Regions from separate parts of the Homo sapiens genome. Here region 1 is linked to region 2. Evidence: fine-mapped expression QTL. Tissue or cell type: nucleus accumbens. Region 2 holds a variant in brackets; the other region holds the start of a gene. All regions are shown on one strand. Distances are between the middles of the regions.

Region 1 (4,248 bases), 81 kb before region 2:
CTAATTTTAATTTAGGGAGATTATTCAAACTGGCAAACTGTGTTAAATAATGCATTGATTTATTCTATTACTCAAACTTCAATTAGCAATAAAAAACACAAAATGAGCAAGAAAAAATAAATTTAATAAATAGCTTAGCAACTTTATTCATTAGTTTCTACCTTCTCTTTCTTCAGTAAATCTTTTCCTGGAGATAATTTTGATCTGCCTCTTGAGGGCTATGTAGTCAACAGTGAATGGTCCAATGGGTAGCAAATAGAAAAAGCCAAGAGTCTAAAAATTGACAAATTACACAATCAATACCCAAAATGTTTATATGTACAAAAATAACATTTGATATTGTTTGAGACCTTTGTGTGTCACCTGTTAAACACTGGAGAGTTATTAAAATCCCAGTATTATTTCATAATGTCACACATAAAAATAATTCTGAGTGCTCTTGGAAAATGTTTCTTAAGCCATATTTGAGGGGTTTAGTTACTTCACTGGATATTGAACCTTTTGAATAATTCTATTCTAATTCCCTATATTTGGTGTTGTGTGTATGCATATAAGGGGGAACAAACTCACTTTGTTATGAAAATGTTTTTTGAAAGATGTTTCTCTCTAAAATAAAAAACACTGGAGGAGTCAGTCAAGGAATGTCTAACAGGCTAGTAGCTGAAAAAGCTGAAGTTAGTTGGGACTTAAATTGCATGCAAACATTTAGAAATCAACAGTTCATTAAGGAGGTTTGCTTCAAAGTTAAGTACCAGGTATGCTACAAAAGTTTCAAGAAATAAGTTATTAGGCATACCTATCAACAATTATGTTCAATTGATAGCCATTGAAATACAAGGACAAAAAAAAGTTATGTCCCAGAAAAATAAATTTCACTCTTCCAGTCACTTGTTAGGAGCAAAGGTGCATTACCTAAAGCTATCAGGGCTGCAGACAATGCTGTGAAGTTTATCCTAGATATACTACCATCTTTGAAATCAACATAGCAGTTTTGCTTTGGCTGAAAAAACTACTTTTGGTTAGATACGTGAAGCCAATCATAAATTCCTAAAATTTTTCTCTGAGATGAGATGGTTGGATGAAGGCTATTTACAATGGCCACTATTTTGCAAACCCATCTTTAAAGAGAAATGCTTCATGAATGTAGCATGGTGAGGACAGGGGAATGACAGGGACCATTGCTAATGTAGGGGTCAATGGAAAGCTTCCCCTTCACCCTCTGAAGTTTTGCTGGAAAATCAACTCACAAAAGGCAGACTATTAGAAAAAAAAAAGGCTTACAAATTTATGAATAACATAGCATAAGGGAATCGTAGTAGAATGATTACCCAATAACCAATGAGGTACAGATGATAATATACCCATCTTTTTAGAGGAAAGGAAGATGAGAATGTGTGTATAATTTTAAGAGGGTAGTAAATGAATTTTAGGGAAATTCAATGGGCTTGAAGAATATGCAATGGCCTGGGACAAAGTCTGTTGGCCCTACAGGGCAGACGAGAGTTTGTAACAGAAGGCTGCCAGTTGTATTGACAGACTGCAGTCCTTCTTCCTGAGATATTAGTTCGGTTAATGAAAACTCAGGAAAGAAACTCTTTTTTTTTTTGTTTGTTTGTTTTTGCCTTTAGTAGTTCTGGACTTTAGGCAGATAAGGGAACTTTAGAGAACAGCTTTATTCTGTGCTATGGGAGAGACAAAGGATTGAGAGAGAGGAGCTGGAAGAGAGGGGTATGGTCAGAGAGACCCCCTGGCTTCTTCGGTTTAGCATGTCAAAGCACCATATTTTGGGAAATTGGTGTCTGAGCTTTAGCATTAAGAACAGACTCTCAGTAACTACTGGCAGTGCAAGGTCCTTTCAGTGATTACTTTTACTAATGTGAACCTAAAACATTCCAGTGAGGTAGGTAAAAACCTCAGTTAAATGAGTGGAAACAGAATTACAGAAATGTGGAGTTTTGTTTAAGTAAAGGGGAACAAAAAAACGCAATCCCATCGATTTTGATGCTGACAGTGATTGCGGTATTAGTGATGTTAACAGCTTTAACAGCGGAGCACCCAGGACCAGAAATCATTTCCGAGTCTGACGAGTGGGAAATTACAGCAGAGAATCTGGAAGAAGAATAACCAATAGATCAGGAAAAGCAATACTTAAATTCACTTCTGAGCCGAAACTGGGCATTTTGGGGGATGGGCATGGCAAACAGCAGTAGAGTTCTTTAGGAAAAAATTAGGGACGTTTTCAGCAGCTCCCGCCACCTACTATGTCCGGGTTACTGCGGGATCCACAGAATGGAAGTTGCCCGCCAACAGGAAGAATGTCTCCTCCCTCTGCAGGGCTTCCTTTCCCCCATCGAGGGCCCCTGGGGACCACAGGTCCCCAGCGGGTAGGGCGGAGGCGTGGCCTTGCGAAGGTCAGCGGAGGCCACCCAGAGCTCACAGCCTCCTGCCAGCGCGCTCTCTGTTTCTCTGCAGCCCCGAAGCTCGCGAATGTAGCAGGCGCCCCAAGCTCGGTCCTCAAGAAGCCATGGCGGAATCCAGGGGCCGTCTGTACCTTTGGATGTGCTTGGCTGCTGCGCTGGCATCTTTCCTGATGGGATTTATGGTGGGTAAGTGAACAAAACACTCTACCCCGACTCCGGGGCTCGTGATTCTCTGCAGAGATAAAGGGAGAAATCCTGGAGCTGGAAGGGATTGGGCTGTGCGCTAGCCCTGGCCGGCTGGGCTAGATATGATAAACTCTGCACATTTCAGCAAAACTAGAAACCAGATGGAATGTATTTTGGGCTTGCTAATAGATAAAGTGTGCTTGAAATTCAAATTTATTAAATGTTCACTGAGTTCACTAAAGACAACCTACAGCTGTCACTGTCTGCAGGGATGAAAAAAAATCGTTTTATTTCCAAGCAACATTAGTGAGTCAAAACTTTCAACTAATACGGGCAGCATTAAAAACAAAGCAAAACGAAACAAAGCAAAACAAAACCCTGCTCTATACGTAAATAAATATTTGTGGAATGTTCCCTATGTGTCAGGGACTAGAGATCCAGGGAAGAACAACAAAAGCCATGCCTTCATGCATAACGTGAGAAAATGAAAGAGCTTCTCTTAAATAAAACTCCTTTTAAGCATCTAAAAATTATATTACATATCAGAATTTACAGGTTTTCTGCATTTAATATAAACATTATTTTTTAAAGCTCACCATGATCTACTTGTCAGATAAAGGCTTTTTGGGGGGAAGGACAGAGGGGTGGCTTCTAGTTTTAATAAAGTCAAAGTGATTTTGTGTGTATGTGTGCATGTTTGTGTATTTTTTTTCCTTAGGCTGGTTTATTAAGCCTCTCAAAGAAACGACCACTTCTGTGCGCTATCATCAAAGTATACGGTGGAAACTGGTATCCGAAATGAAAGCTGAAAACATCAAATCATTTCTTCGGTAAGTTTATTTTACGTATTTGATCTTAAAAATCATGTTTAAAATATCACAGTGAGAAGCATATTATACCTGGTTATATGCATGAGGACAGTCTTCTCTGTGTGAAATTACATATTAGTCATCAACTTTTTTTTTTTTTTTAATGTCTCTTTACACCAGTCTTGGGGTGAAAAAGTAGGTCTTTCTTCCCTAACTTTATGTAACAAAAAGTATCTGGTTGGCTTATTGAGAGATGTTTCAACTTCATGTAACTTTGGATCTAACTGAATGTTATTCTTTGTTCATCAGTGCCTGGGTTTTAATCAGCAATTTTCTTAGATACCATATTCTGTCAGGGAAAGTTAGATGATGGTTGACTAAGTGATTTAGTGGAAAAGTGATCAAAGTGTCTGATTCTGTCTGCCAAAAGTTAAACCTTTATCCCATCTTGCAGGTATAAATTTGTTTTTTACAAATAAGACAAAATGAAACCAAAAAGAATCATTGCCATTCCTCCAGCTTCTAACCATGAAAAACAGTGGAAATTGGGGGAGTGATCATAAACTCCTTAAGAACAATGGCCATGGTATTTATTTCTGTATTCAGACTCTTTCAAATGGGTGTTATTTTTTAAAATCAGCTTTAGTGAAGTATAATTTACATAAAATAAACTGCATCCCTATAAAGCCTACAATTTGAGAGTTATGACAGACGTATGCTATGCTGAACAAACCACCTCCTCCATCATGCTACAAAAATATTCCATTATGCCCTTTGCAGTTTATTCCCCATCCCCCTCCATCTCTGTCACTGGGCAATCACTAACCAATTTT
Region 2 (4,248 bases):
TGCTTCTAAAACAATTTAGTACTCAAGTGTAGCACGAAGAAGACCTGGTTCAACAAAGGTACTCAATATACATGTGTGGGAATACAGAGTCTGGTTATCAGAAGGCAAGTATGAAGAATCTGTACAACTCTATTGCACAATGAGCAAACGCTTTTTTAAGACTACTTTCACAAATATGTCATCTAAATCAAATGCATTAAAAATTGACCAGTAGTAATGAGATTAACGGTAGTTTTCAGGCATCTGAAAGTAAAGATGGATGATTAGGCCTCTGCATTATTTTCTACTTCAAACTCATGCCATGAAAAGGAAAACTGCTTCAAAGAATTTTACCATGCCACAGTGAAAAAGATGCACTCTAAGGCACAAGAAAAATGTGACTTCCCTACCCTGATGATACATGTCCCTGTAATTATGACAGTACAATATGCAAATCTGTTATGTAGTTATATTGTGTACATGCTCTCAAGTTGAAGAGAAATAAAAATTTAAGGCAGATTTAAGGGAGAAACCAAATGGTTCAAAGCTTGGTGGCCTACATAGTAGCTACAAATGGTATCATGCTAAATCATAAAGGAAAGTACCATGCACAAGTGCTACTATTCAAGTGTGACAAAAATATGTAACTGTATAAAGTATACCTTGGTCTTTTTATTGCTTCTACTGGCTTAGGGGCTTGAATGATGTGTTCCTGAAATTTGGGTTTTAATTCACATAGCTCCTTCTTCTCAGTAGTCTTGACTTCAGGTTTGACTGGCTCAGGTGGCTTCTCACTATTATGTCTACCTTTTGTACAGCCCTGTTAGTGAAAGATAATTCATTAAGAGCTATCTATTTTACATTTCATGATAGAAATATTATCTTTTCAGTTCTTTATTGATAGTGATTCTATTTCATGTTTTCTCCAGTTTCAATACATTGATTTTAAGAAATTAAAAACAGAACTCCAAATTTGCCATATTTGCTGAATCTCTGAATGACGGCTTTTTTAAAAAGTCTTTGAATTACACTTCATAAACATCTACTTATTCTATTAAAAATATGGCATAAACCTCTTGTTTACAGAAGAATTCTGGAGAATCTCACAAAGAACTGTAAAAAATAGTTATACAGAAAAATCTGTTACTCGAAAGGCCTCAATTTGAGACCTAGTTCTCAACATACTTATTAGTTATATGACCTTAAGCAAGATAATCTTTTTAAACCTCCATCTCCTCATTTGTAAAATGGAGGTAATGTCAGGTAAGATATTTTCTGAGAGAGTTAAATAATAAAATGCCTGGCACATTTGGCAGGTGATAACATTCAACAAACGTTAGCTACTTTTCTACTACATTCTACTGAATTATACATACTCTTTAACACCTCTGAAATGATACAATCAATAGCATTATCAGTTTGTTAGTAGCTTTAGTTTTCTTAGTGGTATATAAAGTGGTTTTATATAAAAGTGGTATGTAAAATATTTCAACAGCATCTTAGATAAAACTTTATCGTTCCTAACTGAAAAGGCTTTAAATTGTTGCTTACCACTTTCTCCTTGATGTTCTTTCAACATAACAGAAAGAACAAACCTAAAATGATAAGCAGGTAACTGATACCTTAAAACGTTAATTTCCAAAACAGATTCTTTATTTTACAAGCTGTGGAAGGGAGATGAGCTGCTTTTTGAAAGGTGTTATCTGCAAGTTGATGAAGACCAATCAATCTATATCAGAAATCAGACTCCTCAAATCTGAAGCTTTCTATAACATGTATTTTTAGGAAGATAATCTAGAAAAAATAATTAGTACTTACTACAATGCTTAAGAAATCAGAAAAATCAGTTGTTCTTCTCTTACAGCAAGACCAACCCTATGAAAAACAAGAGAAGGAAACTAAAAACTCTATTTGCATGAGAAACACGACCCACTAAAACACTCTACTTGCACTTATCTACTTGAATCCTGCAGTAACTTGCGTATAGAGTGCAAAATTTCAGTGTTGCATATAATTCACCTAATCAAGTAAAATGAATATTAATCTTTGATTTTTAAAAAGCCAATTAACCAATGTTAAAGTGATTTGTGCTATGCCCTATCATCAAGGGAAGCACCTTTATAAAACAAAAACTGTTTCTCTTTTCAACAATCGTGTCTGCTTTTTTTTTAGAAGAAAAACATGTTATAATTCCTAAAACTATCATATTTAAAGAATATTCAAAATAAGTATAGGTATTTTACTTTTAAAATCTATTAAGTTAAAGATAGTAACTATCTTTAGTTAATTTTAATTTCACAATAAGCATTCTATTTTCAGAACAACAAAGATTAATTAACACAGCAGC[T/C]AAAGCACTATTAAGCCTTTGAAGGTGATCTTTTCAGTGAGAAGCATAAAGACAGAGAAACTATTAGTATTTGTGATTTTTGAACAAACTATCAAGTAGTTTACCAAAAAATGGCTTTAATAATTATCTCTAAATTCCAATGTTTATAGAGCATAGGGAAACAAAAATGCAAAATCTCAAAACTTGGAACTTCAGATTAAGATTTGGGACTAAATTCAGATTAAGATGCAACTTTGCACACATCCGCCTGGACCTCGCTGATTTTCAAAAGACTGCATAAAAATATGGTAGTGATTTTTCTCATTATATGCACCTGTAGGTTCTTTTTCTTTAAAGGTAATTTCAAATATCCTATAATTCAAATTTTCCTTTAATTTGAAATTTAATTATCTTTTACTCCGAATTGAGATGTAGATCAATTACTACAACCTTAAATATAGGGTTTAAATAGCATCAATAATATAGTCAACAGAAAAGTTATTCTATAAGAGAAAAAGTTTTACTGTCTTAATCATGTACTAAATTATGTCAGATACTGTGATACACACATGTAAAATACAATACAGGCCAGCTGTTCCCAAATGCCAATCTGGATTCTATGCTAGTCTTCAGTACAATGAGAAAAGGAAAGATAAATTTAAGTTATGTGAATATAAGGTTGCTAGTTGTCTTTTTTCAGCAAGATTGTCCTTTTCTCTGAATATGCCCCTTCTAATATTAAAATAGTATTTCTTTTGTCAATGCAATGTTTAACTTCTTACTTGGTCAACTAGTATCCCTGTATTGATGTATACGCATTTTGTCTGAAATCTTCTGGACTGTGAAATCCAATAATCTTGGAAAGTCTAGGACTTTAAGAAATGGTTATAAAATAGAGACCACAATAAACACTACAACTGCAAAAGAGAGAGAAGCAAAAATACTTCAAAGTGAATTCATTAAGACTTGGAGTGATTAACAATGCGGTAAGAGAAAAAACGGGCAATGGACCAAATGATCAGAAAGTCAGTAGTATCATTACTAGGAGCAGTAAAGTTGAGAGGCAGACTACTTTTGGAATAAACGGTACACACTAGAAACTGGTTTGATGTTGCCAATGAGACACATAAATAGAAATATGTTGTAAGAGCCATCGGCGTAGAGGTGACATTTGAGAAAACCAATGAATGAACTGAATGAGAGAAAACAGCCAAAGGTTACCTTTAAGAGCTAAGAGGAAAACAGCATAGGGAAAAAAAGAAAAAGACACAGTAAAACAAAAATATCAGAAGAAATGGCAGTCTAGGAAAAATAAAATTCCACAAAAAGAAAAATAAACATTTCCACAGCACCACAGTTTCCACCACAACAAAGATTTGTAAAAACTAAAAAAATGTATGGAGGAATAAGGTCTCAACTTGCCCTACTGAATGTCTTCTCTGTTTTCCTCACTCAGAACTAACCAGACTAATACATCTTTTGTTAGATTTGGTGGTGTTAACAGTGAAGTGCCAAAACAGTCTAACTACTCTTTGGAAGGTATAATTAGACATTTAAAGGGCACCAACAATATTTAAACATGTTAAGACTGCTTATGTTCCTGAGAACCAAAGAAGTAGAACCTAAAACCATGGCAGCCCTACCACAGCATCATCTTTTGAGATATACAAAGGAAACTCTTTAAATGTATCATACTATCATGAATTTTAAAAAGATGACCAGCAAAAACCTAGTCAAACAACATTCCACCAATTCTCCAGAACATCCAAGAAGTATAGCTGGAAAACTCACAGGTCTGTCCCGAGATTGGCACTAAATGTTTATAAGAATCTTTTCTAAAATTCAGAGCTGTTATTAGCCAGTAGTGACAGACTGAGATTCAATACAACCACTCTATTTTCCCTCAAAATTAGAAAAGTGAAGAAATGGGTGTAGAAAATGAA

Alleles and levels. Positions count from the first base shown, and alleles are read on the strand shown. Sizes are in standard deviations (SD) of each study's normalised expression.
In carriers of allele T in region 2, the expression in nucleus accumbens of the gene that starts at base 2,429 in region 1 tends to be higher than with C alone (small effect, 0.27 SD a copy in GTEx).

The links. PIP is the estimated chance that this variant, and not a neighbour inherited with it, causes the effect. A credible set is the group of variants that fine-mapping cannot tell apart.
Region 1: NAALAD2 starts here. The variant in region 2 is the best candidate, but not a certain one, in a credible set for the expression of NAALAD2 in nucleus accumbens (GTEx, PIP 0.70).

Annotation. Positions count from the first base shown.
Region 1 is chr11:90,132,235-90,136,482 of GRCh38, forward strand. NAALAD2 (N-acetylated alpha-linked acidic dipeptidase 2) reads left to right here and starts at 2,429. Exons shown (of 19, transcript NM_005467.4): 1 at 2,429-2,606; 2 at 3,325-3,436. The coding sequence starts at 2,525. RefSeq lists an enhancer at 2,333-3,036.
Region 2 is chr11:90,213,377-90,217,624 of GRCh38, forward strand. It overlaps CHORDC1 (cysteine and histidine rich domain containing 1), which reads right to left. Exons shown (of 11, transcript NM_012124.3): 3 at 1,798-1,854; 4 at 642-799. Among named protein-coding and RNA genes, the nearest start is that of CHORDC1, 7.5 kb to the right of the region's middle. The variant T/C (reference allele first, on the strand shown) is at 2,327.